Homo sapiens: one gene and its partners. The protein of the gene in region 3 interacts with the protein of the main gene of each other region in a biochemical or structural test. Each region holds a gene or a part of one and is shown on either strand. Other genes may lie near its edges. The genes, in order: IKBKB, PARD3, PRKCI and CCNT1.

Region 1 (2,706 bases), on a different chromosome or scaffold from region 3:
ATCCTGTACAGTTTGAATATGTAACTTAGCTTAAGAGTACCCTGCAGTCACAAGATTTATTAATAAAAGGGTTTGGCTTTTTAATTTGTATTTGTTTAATTTATTTGTTTTATGCAGCCTGGGTCTTGCTATGTTGCCCAGGCTGGTCTTGAACTCCTGGCCTCAAGCGATCCGCTCGCCTCTGCCTCCCAAAGTGCTGGAACTATAGGCATGAGCCACCATACCCAGCCAATAAAGGGGTTTCAATATATTTCTTTTTATTTTTTATTTTTTGAGATGGAGTCTTGCTCTTTTGCCCAGGGTGGAGTGCAATGGCACGATCTCAGCTCACTGCAACCCCTACCTCCCAGGTTCAAGTGATTCTCCTGCCTCAGCCTCCTGAGTAGCTGGGACTATAGGAGCTTGCCACCACGCCTGGCTAATTTTGTATTTTTAGTAGAAATGGGGTTTCACCATTTTGGCCAGGCTGGTCTCGAACTCCTGACCTCATGATCTGCCCACCTTGGCCTCCCAAAGTGTTGGGATTATAGGCATGAGCCACTGTGCCTGGCTGGGTTTTAGTATATTTCTCAATTGTCCTGATTTCCTCCTGAAGAGGAAAAATAACCTGAAATGTGTTGGTGGCTGTTGTTTTTTTAACATGTCTGTTGACTTTCAGGCCCTAGACTGGAGCTGGTTACAGACGGAAGAAGAAGAGCACAGCTGCCTGGAGCAGGCCTCATGATGTGGGGGGACTCGACCCCCTGACATGGGGCAGCCCATAGCAGGCCTTGTGCAGTGGGGGGACTCGACCCCCTGACATGGGGCTGCCTGGAGCAGGCCGCGTGACGTGGGGCTGCCTGGCCGCGGCTCTCACATGGTGGTTCCTGCTGCACTGATGGCCCAGGGGTCTCTGGTATCCAGATGGAGCTCTCGCTTCCTCAGCAGCTGTGACTTTCACCCAGGACCCAGGACGCAGCCCTCCGTGGGCACTGCCGGCGCCTTGTCTGCACACTGGAGGTCCTCCATTACAGAGGCCCAGCGCACATCGCTGGCCCCACAAACGTTCAGGGGTACAGCCATGGCAGCTCCTTCCTCTGCCGTGAGAAAAGTGCTTGGAGTACGGTTTGCCACACACGTGACTGGACAGTGTCCAATTCAAATCTTTCAGGGCAGAGTCCGAGCAGCGCTTGGTGACAGCCTGTCCTCTCCTGCTCTCCAAAGGCCCTGCTCCCTGTCCTCTCTCACTTTACAGCTTGTGTTTCTTCTGGATTCAGCTTCTCCTAAACAGACAGTTTAATTATAGTTGCGGCCTGGCCCCATCCTCACTTCCTCTTTTTATTTCACTGCTGCTAAAATTGTGTTTTTACCTACTACTTTGGTGGTTGTCCTCTTTTCGGCAAAGTTGGAGCGAGTGCCAAGCTCTCCATCTGTGGTCCTTTCTGCCAAGAGCGACTCATAGTAACCAGGATGGGAGAGCAGCTGCCTTATTCTGAATCCCAAAAATTACTTGGGGGTGATTGTCACAGAGGAGGGACAGAAAGGGTATCTGCTGACCACCAGCCTGCCTACCCATGCCCATGTCTCCATTCCTGCTCAAGCGTGTGTGCTGGGCCGGGGAGTCCCTGTCTCTCACAGCATCTAGCAGTATTATTAAATGGATTCATTTTAAAAATAGCTCCTATATTTTGTAACATGTCTCAAACACTCATACTGGGTTCCACAATCCACTGTTAGAATACCTATGGTTAGGGCTTCTGAACTAAAATAATGGAAAATTTTAACAATTTGTATAGTGCCTGGATCATTACTAGTGCCATAACCCTGCTTCTTCAACATTTCACAGAACTTCTCTTTTATATAAAGGCAAGAGCACAAAATGAGTTCAGATGATCACAAACAGGTGAGTTTTGTTGGAGAAGAAAGTTGGAGTAGGAGACTTTCACAAGTGGTTTCCATGGAGATAGAATGAAGCATTCTGTGGTCAAGTAAGTTTAGGGAGCTATTCATGTTTCACTTGCTTTGTGGAGATTCACACTATGCACTGGGAAAGTATCTGAAAAGTCTTATAATAAAGAAACAGGCTTAACTTTGTGTAAGAACACTGTTTATCAATGTCATTTGGCTATAGAAACATTTTCTCCTGCTGATTGTGTGTGTGAAACATGTATTAACATTCCAATGAACTAGCATTTAATAAAGCACAATTTTGGAAACCCTGGTAAATGACAGTGGGAAATAACACCCGAAAGGCAAGGACGGGCAGATTGGGGAGGGAAAGGATGTTGGGCTAAGGGCTGTGAGCTTATGTTACAGGCAACTGAGCCACTGAAGAATTTTGACGAAGAAAATGCCAACCAAAGCAGTCATTTTAAAAGTTTATGGCTGTTCAGTTACAGGACAAGTTGTGAAAAGAAAGAAAAAAAATGGAAAAAAAAAAAGTTTATGGCTGAAACAGTGTAATTGATTAAAAAGTGAAAATCCAGGCCGGGCGCGGTGGCTCACGCCTGTAATTCCAACACTTTGGGAGGCTGAGGCAGGCAGATCACCTGAGGTCGGGAGTTCGAGACCAGCCTGACCAATATGGAGAAACCCCGTCTCTACTAAAAATACAAAAGCCAGGCGTGGTGGGACATGCCTGTAATCCCAGCTACTCGGGAGGCTGAGGCAGGAGAATCGCTTGAACCTAGGAGGCAGAGGTTGCAGTGAGCAGAGATTGTGCCATTG
Region 2 (7,047 bases), on a different chromosome or scaffold from region 3:
GCTTGAACCCAGGAGGCAGAGGTTGCAGTGAGCCGAGACTCTGCCACTGCACTGCAGCCTGGGCAACAAAGTGAGACTCCGTCTCAAATACAAGAAGGGAAAAACCAGACACTAGAAAAATATACATCTGAGTTCCAAAACCTTAAATCTTACAGTGTCTGAATAGTTAAAAACACCAAGATTGGGAGAATGTTGACTTGACTATCATCTCTAAAATGACTTAAATTTATACCACCATAAAAGATCACCCCAGAAATACACACGTATGTGCATATATATATATATATATATATATACACCGTACAGTTCGTATCATGCAATATCATACATCTGTAATTCACAAAGGGAATTGTCTTAGTCACTTCTGAGCATGATGTGATTTACATTAAAAGATACTTACCTTGAGACAATAAGAAATTCTGGGGCCGGGCGCGGTGGCTCACGCCTGTAATCCCAGCACTTTGGGAGGCTGAGACAGGCGGATCACGAGGTCAGGAGATCGAGACCATCCTGGCTAACACGGTGAAACCCCACCTCTACTAAAAATACAAAAAAATTAGCCAGGCGTGGTGGTGGGCACCTGTAGTCCCAGCTACTCGGGAGGCTGAGGCAGGAGAATGGCGTGAACCTAGGAGGTGGAGCTTGCAGTGAGCCGAAATCACGTCACTGCACTCCAGCCTGGGCGACAGAGCGAGACTCCGTCTCAAAAAGACAAAAAAAAAGGAAGAAGGAAGGAAATTCTGAAGGACACCCTAGACAAATTTTTTTTTTCTGTTAGAGACAGAGTCTCGCTGTGTCACCCAAGCTGGAGTGCAGTGACACCATCATAGTTCACTGCAATCTCAAACTCCTGAGCTCAAGCAATCCTCCCACGTCAGCCTCCTGAGCAGCTGGGACTAAAGATGCACACAACCATGTCTGGCTAATTTTTTTTTTTTTTTTTTGAGATGAATCTCCCCATCGCCCAGGCTGGAGTGCAGTGTCGCTATCTTGGCTCACTGCAACCTCTGCCTCCCAGGATTCAAGTGATTCTCTTGCCTCAGCCTCCCAAGTAGCTGTGATTATAGGTGTGCACCACCATGCCCAGCTATTTTTTGTACTTTAAGTAGAGATGGGGTTTCACTACTTTGGCCAGGCTCGAACTCCTGACCTCGTGATCCACCCACCTCGGCCTCCCAAAGTACTGGGATTACAGGCGTGAGCCACCACACCCGGCCTATGCCTGGCTAATTTTTTTAAAAAGAGACGGGGTCTCACTATGTTGCCCAGGCTGGGTCTTGAACTCCTGGCCTCAAGCAATCCTCCCACCTCAGCTTCCCAAAGCTCTGGGATTACAGGCGTGAGCCTTCTCACCCAGCCAACCCTAAGCAAAATTTACCCTAACTCTGAATAGCATCCATTTGACCTGGAGAGCAAGCCCCGTCATTTCAAAGTTGGGGGGGTCGGGGTGAGGCAAAATATTCTCACAGCATGGAGGGAAGCAGTAAGAGGTCCTGGACCCTGTATAACCATCTGAAAAGCCACTGCACATCACTTATGGTCCCATGAGCACCAAAACAAACCATGCAGAGCAGGAGTCCCTGCACAGCTCAGGGAACTGGCAGTGGGAGTCCAGCCCAGCACCTCTGAATATGAGAACATGGGGAAACAGAGGCTCACAGAGCTTGTAAGATTTGCCAAAGCTCAAAATTTCTGGGAGCCAAAGCCAAATGCTGGAAAGGCTGGTCCATTACGTGCATCCTTGGGGCATTCTCAACCTCCACTGCACAAAGGTAGCTGGCGAGCTGGGTAGAAGGAGTCTCTGGCTAAAGAACAATTGGTGAAGCCCTTAGAGGGGGTAGGGGGTAGCACACAGAGACCAGGGGACCTGGAGGCTCAGCAGCCAGGAGCTTACCAGACACTAAACAGGACACATTGGACAGGCCTGAGAAAGCAGGGATTCCACACTATATGGAAAACTCCTAAAGACAGCCAGTTTTCATTTGAAGTGTTTTGAGCATCTCTGATACACATATATATGTCATTTTATGAAATGCTCAGAACTACAAAATACCTAAAAATGGAGCGTTGTTCATAGTGGCTTATGCAGTCTATTTTTCTAACATCTTTATTGACATATAATCACATAACCATAAACTCCATCCATTGAAAGTATACACTTGAATAGAACTGTGCAACCATCACCATGATCTTAGAATATTTTCATCATCCCAAAAGGAAACCTCATACCCATTCACAGTCTCCATGACTCCAAACTCCCAGTCCTAGCGGAACACCACTCTACTGTCTCTATAGAGCTACCCACTCTGGTCATGTTATAGGAACAGAATTATACAATATGTGGGCTTGCTGCTATGAACACTGATGTACAGGTTTTGTGTACACATTTTCATTTCTCTTGTGTGCTTGTGTGTGTGTGTATATATATAAAGAGTATATATAAAATATATACAGAATAGAGTACAGAGACTATATACAAAATATACTCTGTTTAGGTGAAAAAAATAAATAATTGATATTTAAAGTCACTTGGATGTGGAGCTTGAAATTTTACTTGCAAGGACCAATATGAGTTGATGGAGAAAAAAGGAATACACAAAAGTAATATTTAAATGGCAAAAACCACGTAAAGATAGCAGGCCAGATGCAAGAAGGCACAGACCTATACACGAAAGTTATTTTAACTTTATTTACTAAAATGTTTACTTATTTACTAAATAAGTTAAAACAAAGTTATTTTTACTTATTTGCTAAAATTTAGGCCAGGCATGGTGGCTCGTGCCTGTAATCCCAGCACTCTGGAGGACCAAGGCAGGTGGATTGCTTGAGCTCAGGTGTTTGAGATCAGCCTAGCCAACATGGCGAGATGCCGTCTCTACAAAAACTACAAAAATTAGCCAGGTGTGGCGGCACACAACTGTAGTCCCAGCTACTTGGGGGACTGAGGCAGGAGGATCGCTTGAGCCTGGGAGGTTGAGGCTGCAGTGAGCAGAGATCACGCCACTTCACTCCAGCCTGGGTGACAAAGACCCTGTCTCAAAAAAAACAAAAGAAAGAAAGAAAAAACTTGTAAATAATGACTAAAAGACAAAAAAAAATCAGTCATCTTTCTACTTTATTCACTGAACTCGGCATTTATTTTGATAAAGATTTGCTTTTGTACAGAAAAGGTACCCAAAACAGGTAAAACTGTATACATTTACTGATGTCCAGCTCTACTGCCATTGACCTTGGTCCCAGCCAGGAATGTTGAGCGAGTGGCCAAGCAGGATGAAAGCATGCTGTGTGGGCTTAGCATGCCATCTCCCCCGATGGAAAATTACCTATAGAAAGCACCTTCTGGCCCAATCTTACATGTTTATTTCCATCCTTGATAAAAAATACCGAGGGCTCTAATCATCTATGGGGAGCTCAACATCACCAACTTGCACCCAACTCTGTGGGGAGGTAGAACCTCCCAGGACAGACGGAGGATCCGTCTGTGGGTTTGCATCCAAGTGGGACTTTAAATATTCCCTCCACAACCAATTTATCCATGTCTACCACAAGCCAAGAAGCGCTTCACATCCGCCAGATTCTCTCTGAGAATCTCAGATCCTAAACATTCCTACTTAGTCCTGGCACTCAGCCAAGCATCTCAACTGACGGAATCAGAGGCGCCAGACCAAGCATAGGTGTGTTCCAGGGCCAGATTCTCACACAGCCCTGGCCACCTGCCTTGAACCTCGCCCAAGGCGAATCCCAGGAGGGTCCTCTGCTTGAGCTGAAAAACAAACTGAACTCCCTCAAGACAGCTGATACGAAAGAGTAACTTCCAAGTACTCCAAACCTCATTAAATCTTAGTTTCCATTACAAGCTGTTTGTGCCAGTAGGTCAAACACACCAAACCTTAAAGTCCTTTAAATTCACGAGTGCTGATGATAGTCCTCTCAGCAGAAGTGTATTTTTTGTGTGAGAGCAGTGTAACATGTTGATTCTCAGCTTTCTATTTACTCAACATTCTGACTGCAATGTGACAGACACGGGCTATTCACCAAGACTGAAGCTCAGCCACCGCTTCAAGCATTTCACCCGGAGGGAGGAAGGGCGCACGGATACACTTGAAAACCACACAGCACAGCCCAAGCATCTGAGTCGGTACAGGAGCTACACCCAGGACGTCCCCAGGAGAGGCAGCAGGCAGGGAGAAAGATCCTCTAGCAGCTTGGGATGGAGAGCCAGCCTCCTGGAGATGGCTGTCTGGGCTAAGACTCACGAATGAGTGCAAGGAAGGAGCAAATGTCCCAGGCAGAAGAAACAGAAAATGCCAGAACAGAGGCAGCAAAGTGTATGTGAGTCCCAGGGGGTGGAGCAGCTGCAGAGGGAGTGGCTGGAAGGCAAGAGGGGTCCCTACAGGGACAGGCTGTGCTCAGAAGGCAGGACTTGGAGAACGCGGGACAAAGGCGCTTCAGCACCAGAGGACAATGTGACTTGAATTCTGGAAAGATCAGCCTTTCAAAAATGTTTAGTTTCTTTTTCCTTTTTAGAGGGAAGGCAGAAAATGTTAAAAAAATAAATAAATAAATAAAGCTGCTTTCATTTCACTATTTTTATGCTTGCCTCTATTTTCTTTCAATCTCTGCAACAGTACAACTATTTTCTTAAAAGTTTCAATACGCTTGTAAATGAATAACATGCAGTCATACATTTATTCACAGAAAAATTCCATACCAACCACAAGATTTTTCATAAAAACCATGACTGTCATTGTTACTAATCAACAGTCTCCCGCCACCAAAAAAGCACATTTTCAAAAGTTTCTGTCCATGAGCTCAACTTTTTAAAAAATACAGGTCAAGCATCCCTAATTGAAAAATCCAAAATCCAAAATACTCCAAAATCTGAAACTTACTGAGCACCCACATGACGCCACACCTGGAAAATTCCACATGTAAGTACTTACCACAGACTTATTTTCAAGCACAAAAATACTGCATAAAATTACCTTCAGGCTATGTGTATAAGGTACGTAGGAAACATAAATTCTAACAATACATTAGACTTGGGTTCCATCTTCAACCTATCTCATTATATATACAAAAATATCCCAAAGTCCAGAAAAATCCAAAATACTTGTGTGGTCCCAAGTATTTTGGATAAAGGATGCTCAACCTGTAATAACAACAGGTTGCTATTAAATCACTCTAAAGTGATGTGCTTGGGGACAGAAGCCAGAGGCCCCAATAATCAACCTGTAATCAAGCCAATACCCGCAGCTTTTACTTCCCCAGCCCATACACACATGCAACACACAATTTTGTTCTCCTGATTGTGGTGCTGCACGTCATTCAATCTCACATTCTTACCTATCCTTCAATGAAATTACATGCTGCGTTTTTAAGTAAACAGGAAAAATCCAAGCAGCAATAGTGGGACACCTGGGAAAGTTCCCTGGGTGTAAAACTGCTTGGTGGATAAAACATATTGGTGATTCCATTCATCTTTACGGAGCAGCTAGTATGGGCCGGGCCCAGGACTTTAGAGTTTCCCTCTCATCATCCTGTTTAATACTTACATTAACCCTGCCAGGGAATATTCCACTTGAGATAATGGGGCTCCGTAGGGTTGGTGTACCCAAGGTTAAATGGCCTGTAAACCTAAGTCACCAAACCCAATACAAAGCTCCCCTATACCCAAGGTTAAATGGCTTGTAAACCTAAGTCACCAAACCCAATCCAAAGCTCCCCTACAGGCTGAGAGGAGAGCTATGAGGGAGGTGGGAACAGTGAGCAAAGGGGCTCCAGCACCTCCTTGCCCTCACTTTTGCCCTTCACTCTCTCCTTCCCCTTTTGGTCACTCAGCAACCTTTATTTAGAATGAAATGCTAAGGAATTATCCATCCAAACCTCATCTAAGGTTGCTCAGGTCATCCTCCTAGAACTACTTGTTACCCTGACTCTTAGCTAAACACCACAGTCCTTCCTACTGCACGAAGTCTCAGGGTCTTGCCCTGGCATTCTGTCCTCCTCAGTTTGATCCTGACCCCCTGGGCTGAATGCCTGAATCGCCTTTGTCCATACTGCCTTCCTGGAATGCCCTCCCTTTCACTTATCAGAATCGTAGCAGACATTCTGCAGATTCACACACCTAGACCCCAACTGCAGACCTCAGACCCAGAGCCCATCTGCCCCTGCAGGCAGGTGCCTCACCCAGTTAGCAAGCACTGCCCTATATCAAGGTCAGCCTTCCCACCAACCAAGCCCAGTTCAAATCCTAGTGACTAAATGAGACTCCCACACACACCCCATAATGATAGCACCCACCTCCAAAATCCAGAAGCGATTACTGACTGTATCACAGTGGTGCCAATTAATGCTACCACCTCCTGTTATTTATACTGTTATATATTCTTCCTGTCTCCTAGATTATACTTTTTTTTGAAAATTGCACGAATTCAGTCTTATATTTTTTTCATAGAGCATGACTTTTTATACACAGCAGCCCTTCAACCAACCCCACACAGCGCTGCAGCTCAGCACCATGTCCACCTGGAATCACGCGTGTCAGGTCGCAAGCGCAGAAGAACAGATGCAGACACGGTCCATCCTCCCATCCTGCGCCCTCATGAGAACGGTCCATGTAACGCGGTTCCCAATGTCTAGCACCGCACTGTCCTCAGCGAGGCTCCTAATGCAGATGGGTGGATGAGGATGAACAGCTATTCCCAACCATCAGTGATCACAACCACAAAACCATCTTTCAGGAGAGGAAAAAAGAAATGTCACACATGACTAAGCATAAGCCTTCAAATATCTACTCACTGAGGACATGTCTAGTATTAAATCATGACACTTCACTATCCAGAAAAATTGATTTGTGTAATCTGAAGAGAAAACAGCTCACATGCAATGCCAGAAAATTAGCCCCACCACACCAGAAAATGTTTACTGCAGAGAAAGCCTTGGTGATTTGAGAGTTGGGACCTTTCTCTTTTCCTTTTTATTTTTTATTTTTGGCTTGGTTGGTTATTATCCAAAGCCATAAACATGATCTGCCCACACTTTTCC
Region 3 (7,047 bases):
ATCTAATATCAAACTGATATCACTGATGGCAGTATTATTAGCAGGAAGTTATAAGCCTAACACTGTTGCATCCTCCATGATATCAACTTCATGAATTAGGGCAGAAAGGTTCTAACTGTGTAATATGACCAAAAATATGAAGCCCAGTAATCATTCTACTATCTTTCAATCTTACCTGCTTTCTGTCTGAAAGCAAGAATGCAGCCCAACAAGGAAAGGATGATTGGATGCCTGCTCAAACACATGCTTCTCTGTCTGTACCCAATCAATATCCTATTTTGAAACATGTAAGAAATCTATGTCAAACTGATATCACAATTAATGATAAATTTGCTCTGAGCAATTCAATGGTCACAAATGCAATGGTTAACTAGGCTAAATATCAAAACCATTGATAATCATGAAACGAAAATTTACATACAAAGAGAAAAATAACACTAGTCAATCTTTCAGTATTATAAAACTGTCTAGAAAACTTTTACAAAGCTCAAGTATTTCTCCTGATAATAATGTGGTTTGATTTTTGTTTTTTTAAAAAAATCTAATAATCAAATTACTTTAAATATCTTATACCATCTATAAGAAAAGTAAACCGAAATAATATATTTCATTTACTTAGCACATATTTAGAAAAGCAGAATGAGATAATAAAGCACAAACATAGAGGTTTTCTTTAAAATAGTACTCTTGGCTGGGTGCGGTGGCTCACGCCTATATTCCTAGCAACTTTGGGAGGCTGAGGCGGGTGGATCACTTGAGGTCAGGAGTTCAAGAGCAGCCTGGCCAACATGGTGAAACCCCATCTCTACTAAAAATACAAAAATTAGCTGGGCATAGTGGTGCATGCCTGTAATCCCAGCTACTTGGGAGGCTGAGGCAGGAGAATCACTTGAACCTGGGAGGCAGAGGTTGCAGTGAGCCAAGATTGCACCACTAGCACTCCAGGCTGGGTGACAAGAGCGAAACTCCGTTTCAAAAAAAAAAAAGAATAGTATTCTCAAGCAGTTTAGAAGCAATAAAATATGCAGTGCTTACCTCATCATCATTAACAAGCTCTTTTTTCACAACTTTCATTGCATAAATACGATCTGTTTTTTTTAATCGAACCAACAGTACTTTGGCATAACTTCCTCTTCCTATTACCCGGAGCAAATCAAAATCCTGAAGACCTAGACTGGATGAAGCTTTGCCACTTTCCCTGGTGTTCATTGCCTGTTGAGAACATTTGTATCAGAGTTATAATGGGAAATGCTTTGCGTAGTACATTATATTTCTAACACCTAGTTGTACCTATAACGATTTAAAGATATTTTCCTAACATAAAAATATTTTAAGTTCTTAATATTTTTCAAATGTCATTCCAAACCAAATAATCTAACTATCCAGATTATATGGATGAATTTTGAGATAAGAGGGATGGTAATAAGAATGGGGAGGGAGTTGAAATCACAAAAACATCGAAGGATGTCTTAAAAAGGATACGATAACTTTTGGGTACAGAGGCAATAGAGATGCAGGAATTAAAAAAACACATTAACCTTGGTGACCAAGAGATTGGGGGTACCACTGACAGGGAACGTCAAGTGTGTGGCTAGGATAAGATTGACAAAGTTACTGGAGAGAACGATTGGGTTTTTCATGATAAATTCAGAAGTTATAATGAGACATCAAGATGAAAGAGTCTGCTGGAAGCTTGATACATAGAATGTAAGCTAGTGAGAGCACACATTCAGAGGCGTTTTTGGATGCTATAGACAGAAAACAAGCATGAAGTAGTTCAGCGAATGGAAGACATTCTTTTCCACAGAATACCAAGACCCCTTTGGGACGACAAAGTAAGCCTTAAAATTCATTCACAACTACAAATGTAAGCTTCTAGCAATTTACAGAGAAGCCTGAAGACAGTCTTTTATTAGATGCCTGCAAAATCATCAGCACACAATGGACCCATGAGAATAAAGTATGAAATCTCTGAAGTGAAGAATACCAAGAAAAGCAAATAGTAAATTTTGAGAAAGATAAAGAAACCCGCAAGCACAAAACTGAAAGAAGGGTATTAGAAAAACTGAGTGAGAATGACAACTTAAAAACTTAGAAATAATAATTTAGGCTGCGCACAGTGGCTCATGCCTGTATTTTCAGCACTTAGGGAGGCTGAAGCAGGTGGACTGATTGAGCCCAGGAGTTCAAGACCAGCCTGGGCAATGTGCCAAGAAACCTCATCTCTACCAAAATATACAAAAATTAGCCGGATGTTGGTGGTGTGCACTGTAGTCCCAGCTACCTGGGAGGCTGAGGTGGGAGGATCACCTGAGCCAGGCAGGTCAAGGTTGCAGTGAGCTGTGATTGTGCCAGTGCGCTCCAGCCTGCATCACAAAGTGAGACCCTGTCAATAATAGTAATAATAATAATAATTTGATTTGGTAACAAGGTGATAGTTTGTATATCTGACCCCTCCAAATCTCAAATCTCATGCTGAAATGTGATCCCTAGTGGGAGGTGTTTGGGTCACAGGGACAGATTCCTCATGAATGGCTTGGTGTGTTCCTGTGTAATGAGTGAGTTCAGAGTGTGGCACCTCCCCTGACTCCCTTGCTCCCTCTCTTGCCATGTGGCACACCTGCTTCCCCTTTGCCTTCTGCCAAGACTGAAAGCTTCCTGAGAAGCAGATGCTAGTGCAATACTTACTGATCAGCCTGCAGAACCGTGCACCAAATAAATCTTGTATAAATTACCCAGCCTTAGGTATTCCTTTATTCCTTCCTTCATTTATTTATTTATTTAAGAAAAGGTCTTGTTCTGTCACCCAGGCTGCAGTGCAGTGGCACGAACATAGCTCACTGCAGCCATGAACTCCTGGGCTCAAGTGATCCTCCTGCCTCAGTCTCCCAAGTAGCTGGGGCTACAGGCATGTGCCTCCAAACCCGGCTAATTTTTATTTATTTTTTGTAGACATGGAGGGTCTTGCTATGTTGCCAAGGCTGGTCCTGAACTACTGGCCTCAAATGATCCTCCCGGTCTAAAGTCCTAGGATTATAGGTGTGAGCTGCCACACCCAACCTTCAGGTATTCCTTTGTAACAACACAAAACAGACTAACACACAAGGGTAAATACAGCAGAGTGAAAAGAAACCAGGTTTGAGAAGGTTAAGAAAGAAGAGAAGTGTAAGAAAGTAAGTCAACACATAGACTTGAAATATGGCTAACTGGAAACTATAAGAGAGAATCAAGTGGAGCAAAAAAGATAGAGTTAACTTCACCGACACAATAATAAGGCTGAATGAAATGATAGACGCCACTTAACAGTGAAATGTCATCTTCAAAGGGCCTAAAAAAGAAGAAAACAGCTGACCTAGAATTCTCTATCCTGCAAAAGTAGCTCACAAAGTGAAAGTGAAAGAAAAACATTTTCAGACAAAGAAAAACTGAGTGGATCCATCACTACTAGGTGCTCACTAAAGGAAAAACTAAATTGAGTTCTTGAAGGAGAAAATGCATGATCTCAGATGGAGGAACAGACGTAGGAAGGAAAGAAAAACAAAAAGGGTAAAATGTGGGTAAATCTACATAAGGAGTAACTGTTTAAAAAAACAAATATACACACACACAGAATTTTAAACTCTGATAATAATAACACCCAAAGGCAGGAATGGAAAAGGAATGAATTTAAGGTGTGCCAAGGTCACTGCATCTTCTAGAGAAACAGTAAAAGTGTTATTTGTAATTTTCTTTTTTTTTTTTTTTTGAGACGGAGTCTCGCTCTTTCGCCCAGGCTGGAGTGCACTGGTACAGTCTCTGCTCACTGCAAGCTCCGCCTCCTGGGTTCACACCATTCTCCTGCCTCAGCCTCCCGAGCAGCTGGGACTACAGGCGCCTGCCACCGAGCCTGGCTAATTTTTTGTATTTTTAGTAGAGACTATGTTGCCTAGGCTGCTCTTGAACTCTCAGGCTCAATCCTTCCGCCTTAGCCTCTCAAAGTGCTGGGATTACATGTGTGAGCCATCACGCCCAAGTTGATTTTTTAGTAACAGCTATTCTGACTGGTGTGAGATGGTATCTCACTGTGGTTTTGATTTCTATTTCTCTGATAATTAGTGACGATGAGTGGTTTTTCATGTGTGTTGGCTGCTTATAGGTCTTATTTTGAGATATGTCTGTTCATGTCCTTTGCCCTTTTTTTTTTCTTTTTTTAAACAGTGTCTTGCTCTGTCGCCCAGGCTGGAGTGCAGTGGCATGATCTTGGCTCATTGTAATCTCCGCCTCCCCAGTTCCAATGATTTTCGTGCCTCAACCTCTTAAGTAGCTAGTATTATAGGTGTGTGCCACCACGCCCTAATTTTTTTTTTTTTTTTGTATTTTTAGTAGACATGGGGTTTCACTATGTCAGCCAGGCTGATCTCAAACTCCTGGCCTCAAGTGATCTGCCTGACTCTGCCTCCCAAAGTGCTGGGATTACTGGTGTAAGCCACCATGCCCAGCCCTTTGCTCATTTTTTAATGGGGTTGTTTTTTGCTGTTAAGTTCCTTATAAATTCTGGATATGAGATCTTTGTTGGATGTATAGTTTGTGACTATTTTCTCCCATTCTTTAGGTTGTCTGTTTATTGGTGGATTCTTTTGCTGCGTGGAAGCTCTGTAGTTTAATTAGGTCCCACTTGTCAATTTTTGGCTTTGTTGCAATTGTTTTCGGAGACTTAGCCAAAAATTCTTTGCCGGGGCCAATGTCGAGAGGATATTTCCTAGGTTTTCTTCTAGGATTTTTATAGTTTGAGGTATTACATTTAAATCTTTATTCCACCTTGAGTAAATTTTTGTATATTGTGATGAGGGTCCAGTGGTGACACATGCCTGTAGTCCCAGCTACCTGAGAGGCTGAGGTGGCTTGAACTCAAGAAGTTGAGGCTGTAGTGAGCCATCATTGCACCACTGCACGGGTGCCTGTGCAATAATCCTGTCTCACAAAAAAAATAAAAAGAAAAAAAAAAGTTAAAAAGAAAAAAAGACTTTTTCAGACAAACAGAACAAGAAACTAAAACATAACATCAAATAGGTGACTAACAGGTTTCTTCAAAATAATACAGGAGTGAGGGAAGTGAGTAGACAAAATAAGGCTAGACATGAATTGATAGCTGTTTTAACTAACAATAGATACAAGGGCTTTGTTATATTATTGTTTACTTTTATTTATGTTTCAAAGTTTTGGCTGGGCATGGTGGCTCATGCCTGTAATCCTAACACTTAGAGAGGCTGATTTGGGAGAACTGCTTGAGGCCAGGAGTTCGGGACTAGCTTGGGCAACATAGTGAGACTCTGTCTCTACAAAATAGAAAATGAAAAAATTAGCTGGGTGTGGTGGCACAGGGCTATAGTCCTAGCTACTCGGGAGGCTAAGGTGGGAAGATAACTTGAGCCCAGGAGTTTAAGGTTGCAGTGAGCCATAATCACACCACTGCACTCCAGCCTGGGCAACACAGCAAGACCCCAACTCAAAAAAAAAAAAAAAAAGAATGATACGGGAAAGAGAGGAGGCAGTGTGAACTAAATCTTTCATGTCCAGAAATACACAAAAATAAAAAATTGAAAAACAGAAATATAAATATTATGGACATAACTAGAAATGGTTTAAAAGGTTGCCAAGAAGCCAAACTGGGAGTGGAAGGTGGGAGACATGATTATCTTTTTCACTATAAGCTTTTTTCAAAAAACTGATTATTATTTTAATCAAATCATTTTAATTATTTGTTTTGTTTTAAAAACTGATAAAATACTTAATAGTCAAAAAAACAATGACAGTTAATATGTTTAATCATTTATTGTCTAAATAAGCAATTCAGGCACAAAACGGAAGGGTCTACTATATATTTTAAACAATACTACCAAGTATTTTAAACAGTATCCTTAAATACATTGTAATTTTCAGATTAAGCTATTTTAAAATGAAAATAAGTTATCCCACTAAATTATTTCCTAGTTTAAATTAGTAATTTAATTACTAAATTAAATCAGAATAAAACTCTGGAATCATTACAAATCATTTTTGCATTTCACCATTATGATCTAAAGTCTAAGCAGGTCAATATGTCATACTTTTAAACTCCTGAGCCTTATTAAAAAGCTAATGATATAATGTACAATAAGACAAATTATCTTACCTCTTTTTCTTCACCAACTTGATCCAAACTCTCATGACTTGAAGGATTATATGGAATTACTAAAAACCCAATACCAAACATTAAAAAAAAAAAAAAAAAAGGTGCAGGAGAAAAAAACAGCAACCATTAATGAGTTTGAAATAAAAATTGTCTCCTGATTTTTATTTTAGTTTTTACTTCTGAATAAATTTTCATTATTTAAAACTGACTATCTGTCCTACTAATAACAAATTGTATGTAAATACAATAGTTAAATCCTAATCTTTAGTGAGGGTAAAGAGAGCAAGCATCACAACCTGGTAGCCAAGTACTGCTTTTAACAAGTACTTTCGTTATTTTTAAAACATTTCTCTTCTTTACAAATTAATCAAACACTTCCTTCTAAACAAATGACTCTATAAGATATGTTTAAATTTTTTAGTATGACTAAGACATAGAGATACAGGACCTCTGGTTTTCACTTCTCACTCCATTGTACTCAGAATTTTCCTAACTACCACAATGGTCAAGTAAAGAACAGACAAGGATGGAACTTCTACTTCTTAAAGCTACTTGGGGCAAAAAAAAAAGAGCCTGCATTTCATAGAGTTGATCATTCTATGACTACGAGATTGCATTTTGTCTTTCCAGAAAAACTCCCTTGTTTTCCCTTTCTTGATTTAGTCCAGAGAAGATCATGCTGTTCTACCTCCTTGCACTGCTCTCCAAATTTCCCAGATACGTGTTTAAGGTTTTGTATCTATCTAACGTTTTCAGTTACACCATCTTCCTGGAATTTCCTATATTGCATCTCTCTATGTTTCACATAATTTCTACTTCTGATAATAAAGCTTTTAATAAAAACAAGTCACTTCAGCTGGGTGCCATGGCTCATGCCTGTAATCCCAGCACTTTGG
Region 4 (4,797 bases), on a different chromosome or scaffold from region 3:
TTGACTACAACATACTTTATACTACTGGGTTTACTGATCGACAAATCTTGGGTCTTTCCAACGGACTCAATTCCCACAGGATCTTGCACAATAAGAAAACAGACTAATACCAAAATTGAAACAAAATTGTAAACATATCAATAAAATTACAGTTAAAGACTAAGGACTAGGCTGGACGCGGTGGCTCATGCCTGTAATCCCAGCACTTTGGGGGGCCGAGGTGGGTAGATCACCTGAGGTCAAGAGTTCGAGACCAGCCTGGCCAACACAGTGAAACCCCGTCTCGACTAAAAATACAAAAATTAGCTGGGCATAGTGGTGGGTGCCTGTAATCCCAGCAACTCAGGAGGCTGAGACAGGAGAATCGCTTGAACCCGGGAAGCAGAGGTTGCAGTGAGCCGAGATCACGCCACTGTACTCTCCAGCCTGGGTGACAGGGCTAGATTCCGTCTCAAAAAAAAAAAAAAAAAGACTAAGGACTAATTTGAGGACAGTACACATAAACAACAATCAAATGAGTGTTTTACCATTAACATTTATTGATGGGATGGATAAATACAGATTGAGAAACATACTTGACAGCAAGATATCAAACTGATAGCCAGACTATAAAATGTATACATCCTTTTTAAATTTTTTGAATTTTTTTACAAAGAGCCCTTACTATAATGGTCACTTACCTCCTATCATTCACATAACAGCAGTAGATATCCCAGGGGTAGCATCCAGAGCTGAGGTGCCCCAAGGAAGACAGAGGCAATGGCAGAATAATATGCTGAGAAAGGACTCTTAAGAGCAATACAAAGAGAACAGACAAAAATCTCACCACAAAATTGTACCTGAGTGACAGATTGGTAAAGTGTTTTACTTTTTTTTTTCTTTTCGCTCTTTGGTCTGACAAGAAAAGAGTTTTAGGTGTGTGAAGTAGGGTGGGAAAAAAGGTCAGTTTCAAATTCAGTAACATATGGTAACACTAAGTTAGGCTGCTGCATTCTTTTCTTTGGGTACTTAAGCCAGCTGGCACTTCCACTTTGTAACCAATTATATTATGATCAACAACTAATCAGTTAGTTCCTCAGCTTCAACTGAAGAGTTCCTGATTACCTGATGAAGGACATACTTGCTCTGGCTTCAATTAGCATGCTGTCAAGCATCCCTCTCCATGCTTAACATGGCAACACAAAACCCAAGAGTCCTTCTCTTTTTTTCATTAGCCATGAATAAACACTCACAAAGGGGAAGAGTAGACACTGCTTTTAGTAAACGTCCTTTTTCTTTACCTCCCTTTTCCAATGCCAAGTTCATATGAAAAACTTTAGAAACATTAAAATGGAGAACTCTCTCACCCAAAAAGTAATTCTCATTCCAGACTACTCTATCAGGCAGGATTACTGTACCGTGCTTGTTTCAAACTCACATCCACGGAGGGATAAAAAGACAAAATAAAACTTGACAGTGTGATACAACATGAAAATCTCCTAAACCATCAGGAGCAAACACTCAGTTAAAAGCTGGGTGTTAACAAGCAGCAACTCAAGAAACTTGGGGAGGTATCAAAGTCACTGAAAGCTTACTGGAACCTCGGAGGGCTATTTCTCACCATTTGATGAGTTGCATAGACTGCTTAAATTCTCCCAAGACCAAAAGAATAAAATTTGTATTTCAACTGCAAGATGTTCTAGATTCTCTCTTTTCTTAGTATCAAAATAACTCATAAACAAAAAAAATTGTAAATATTAATCAGTTCCCAAAATAACGGAAACACAGATATGTTTAAAATCCAACCATACTGGGATAGACAGGGCCCCTCTACAATTGCCTTTACTTGGAAGCCATGTATGTGGAGGAGTATGCATTTCAATATGGAGAATTAAGTAGCAGAGGTTTAAGATAACTCAGCAGTGATGTCACCATGATTTTATTTCCATATCCTAATCCATTGCTGTTTGCAACTGGAGATTTAAAATTTTTCTGTCAACACTGGTAAAGCCAATAATACTGAACTATGTAGTATACACTAAATCAAAACACTAAAATCATTTTTAAAAAGGAAGAAAAAAGAAGTTGAGGCTCTCTGATATGGACATACACTGATTCATGAATGGGAAGACTAGACTAACACCTAAGTATTTTCTAAACTCAAAAGCATAACTGATACTTCAGAAGACCGATTTGGATCGATGCTTCACTACAGTTCAGCTAACAGCAACACAGGTATCTGATTAAAAGCCTTAAGGACAATCCACAGGTATTTGTTTTTGCCAACACGAGTCTAGCAAAATTTTAGGAATGAGATTTACAGAAGCTGAGGCTCCAGGCCTACTTATCACCATCACTTATTTTTGACAGTCTAGGTTACATGGAGAAACAAAAAGCCATATTTATCAGACTAACTTTGGATGTATAAATCTCATTTCTCACCCTTTGAAGGTACAAGGATAGGAAAGACACATAGAGCTCAGAAACCACACAGCCCTTAAAAACCTTAAGTTTATGGAATTTGGACAATACACATGCTAGTTGACAGGCACATCTGTTAACCCAAAAACAAAGCAGCAGCTTCATGCAGAGCCCACAAGGAGCTTCATGACATATGCATAGATCTAAAAACAGACACTGTACGTATCTTAAGACAGTACCAGGAGGCATTAACACAGAAAGGTCTCTAAACTGACCTATGTCAGCAATGATCTACTAGTGCAAAGGCCGGACTACACGGCACAAAGCAACTCTTAGGCCCTAGTAAGCACTTTTTTCTAGTTCACTCCTGGCAAAGTTCTAAGGAACTTTACTACAGTACGGCCATGGATAACTGCTATGAGGCCAAATGATTATGTGCCTCTGTGGTAAAGGAGTGCATGTGATTAGAAAATATGTGACATTTGATGAGAGTAACTAAAAGCTGGAAAAGACATTTTTCAAAATCAAACCAGTGATCATCAAGTCCACAAAGATACAGATGCAGACTAAATGGCACATTCCCTTTTGGAAACAGACTCCAACAAACAAAATCTAAATAAATAGAAGCCCTAAATGTACTAAACCACAACTATATATCTACCAATTATCTAACACAACATAGAAAATATCAAGGGGAAAGAGGAAAATGTCATCTATAAAGTGAAGTGACACTCTAAGTCAAGAAGTATTAATGATTTACAGGTCAACAGAGAGCTCCTCGTTTTATACCCAGCAATGGCAGGAACTCTAGACAGTTCAAATATGCAAGATGCAGGGCACTAACCCACCGTCAGTTAACGTTTACTCCTGCCTACAAATTCCTTTCTATATTAGGCCAGTACATCATCAATTCCAACAGCCACAATTTTCTTCCCAACCTGTTCCTGGCAAGTAGCAGCATAAGTACAACTCCTGTCTCCCTATGACTTCCAAATGAAAAATAATTCGACCTCTCCCTAAAAAATCCTTGGCATGAAGTAAGCTGCAATCAAATCATGAAAACAAACTCAAATTGAACCACCTTTTCCAGAGCAAAAAAAATGCAATGAAGATCAAAGAATATCTCATTAAATGATCTCTGGCTAGGTAGTTTTCAGTGGTTAGACAACTAACTTAGAATTCTTTCTAGCCAAGATTTTCTGAAAGATTTATTAAAAATGTTCACTCCTAATATCTGGGATAATCAAGCCTCCATAACAACAGGACTCTTGACCTATTTTTATAAAGGACTTAGAAATCTTAAGAACCTCGATCAAGAACCTAAAGCTACCAAAGATGAACAATCTAAACACAATAGTATCCATTGGCTAGGCTTTGCTCATTCTCATGGCACCAGTACTGTTAAATTCACAAGCTCCAATCTCAAGTCATATAGGCTGCAAAAACTTGAGGATGTAGCTGTTTCCCTTCGGATATACACATAAAAAGCATGTCTTACATTTATAATGTAATTTTTAAAACAATGTTCTAAACTTCCAAATCACAATTTCATTGTTTTTAGTATCCTCTAGCTTCTCCCATATGGTTTGGGCTTTCACAGGCAGGATATACATAGCACATTCCCCATCTCTTAGAGACCTTAAGACTGCTCTCATTTGAACACTTTCCCAAAGCCTCACTTGAAAAAAAAGACACACCCAATTCTGTAGGGCAGAAGCTGGCCTTGCTCGCCAACCCTCCTTCCTCAACCCCATCTCTGTTTTGCACAAAAACAAAAAAAGGGGTAAAAAGGAAGTTCTCATAATAAGGTTAAGAGTCAGGGTGTTGGCTGTACTTGCCCAAACTACAAATTAGAGGGCTACTACTCAATTATAACATAAAGAAAGGGAAAAATACCATGTCAAATACATGCCTCTTCCTTTATGTTCTCAAGGCCAACCATGTTTTTCTCTAGTAGACTGTTGGAAAATGAAAACGGTAAGGAACAGGGAGGGAAGATAAAACATTATTTTTAAACACACACACTTAAAAACACACATACCCACACTTACATACACACTTAAAAGTCTGAAAAAAGTGGCCTGAGCCTATTTCAGAACTCCTAGCCAAAAACCTAGCCTCCCACCCACCCTCACACATTCCCACCCTCCAATCCCACCCACCAGGAGTTACTGCTATGTATCATATACACACAGCAAAATCCCTATCCCCTTCCCAATTATATAAAAAAACTAAACAGATAACTTACTTTCTTTAAATTATTAAGTCTATTAAAAGATTTGACGTTTAAATACTTCCTCTCTTCTGATATATTAAACACCGAAAGGATCCACAATTGTCTGATACAAGAAACCCTCCATTTTTCAGCTCTGGCAAGAAGAGGGAAGATATCAACTC

The links.
Region 1: the proteins of PRKCI (region 3) and IKBKB form a complex in vitro, tested with the Homo sapiens proteins (one study listed by BioGRID).
Region 2: the proteins of PRKCI (region 3) and PARD3 form a complex in vitro, tested with the Homo sapiens proteins (one study listed by BioGRID).
Region 4: the proteins of PRKCI (region 3) and CCNT1 form a complex in vitro, tested with the Homo sapiens proteins (one study listed by BioGRID).

The regions. Positions count from the first base shown.
Region 1 is NC_000008.11:42,330,256-42,332,961, forward strand, and holds the end of IKBKB (inhibitor of nuclear factor kappa-B kinase subunit beta), read left to right. Parts: exon of another isoform or gene 1-84; intron 85-658; coding exon 659-724; 3' UTR 725-2,205; downstream 2,206-2,706.
Region 2 is NC_000010.11:34,805,272-34,812,318, forward strand, and holds part of PARD3 (partitioning defective 3 homolog), read right to left. Parts: intron 1-7,047. UniProt on the Homo sapiens protein: Adapter protein involved in asymmetrical cell division and cell polarization processes. Seems to play a central role in the formation of epithelial tight junctions. Targets the phosphatase PTEN to cell junctions.
Region 3 is NC_000003.12:170,274,392-170,281,438, reverse strand, and holds part of PRKCI (protein kinase C iota type), read right to left. Parts: intron 6,211-7,047; coding exon 6,152-6,210; intron 1,213-6,151; coding exon 1,036-1,212; intron 274-1,035; coding exon 176-273; intron 1-175.
Region 4 is NC_000012.12:48,687,943-48,692,739, forward strand, and holds the end of CCNT1 (cyclin-T1), read right to left. Parts: 3' UTR 516-4,797; downstream 1-515. UniProt on the Homo sapiens protein: Regulatory subunit of the cyclin-dependent kinase pair (CDK9/cyclin-T1) complex, also called positive transcription elongation factor B (P-TEFb), which facilitates the transition from abortive to productive elongation by phosphorylating the CTD (C-terminal domain) of the large subunit of RNA polymerase II (RNA Pol II).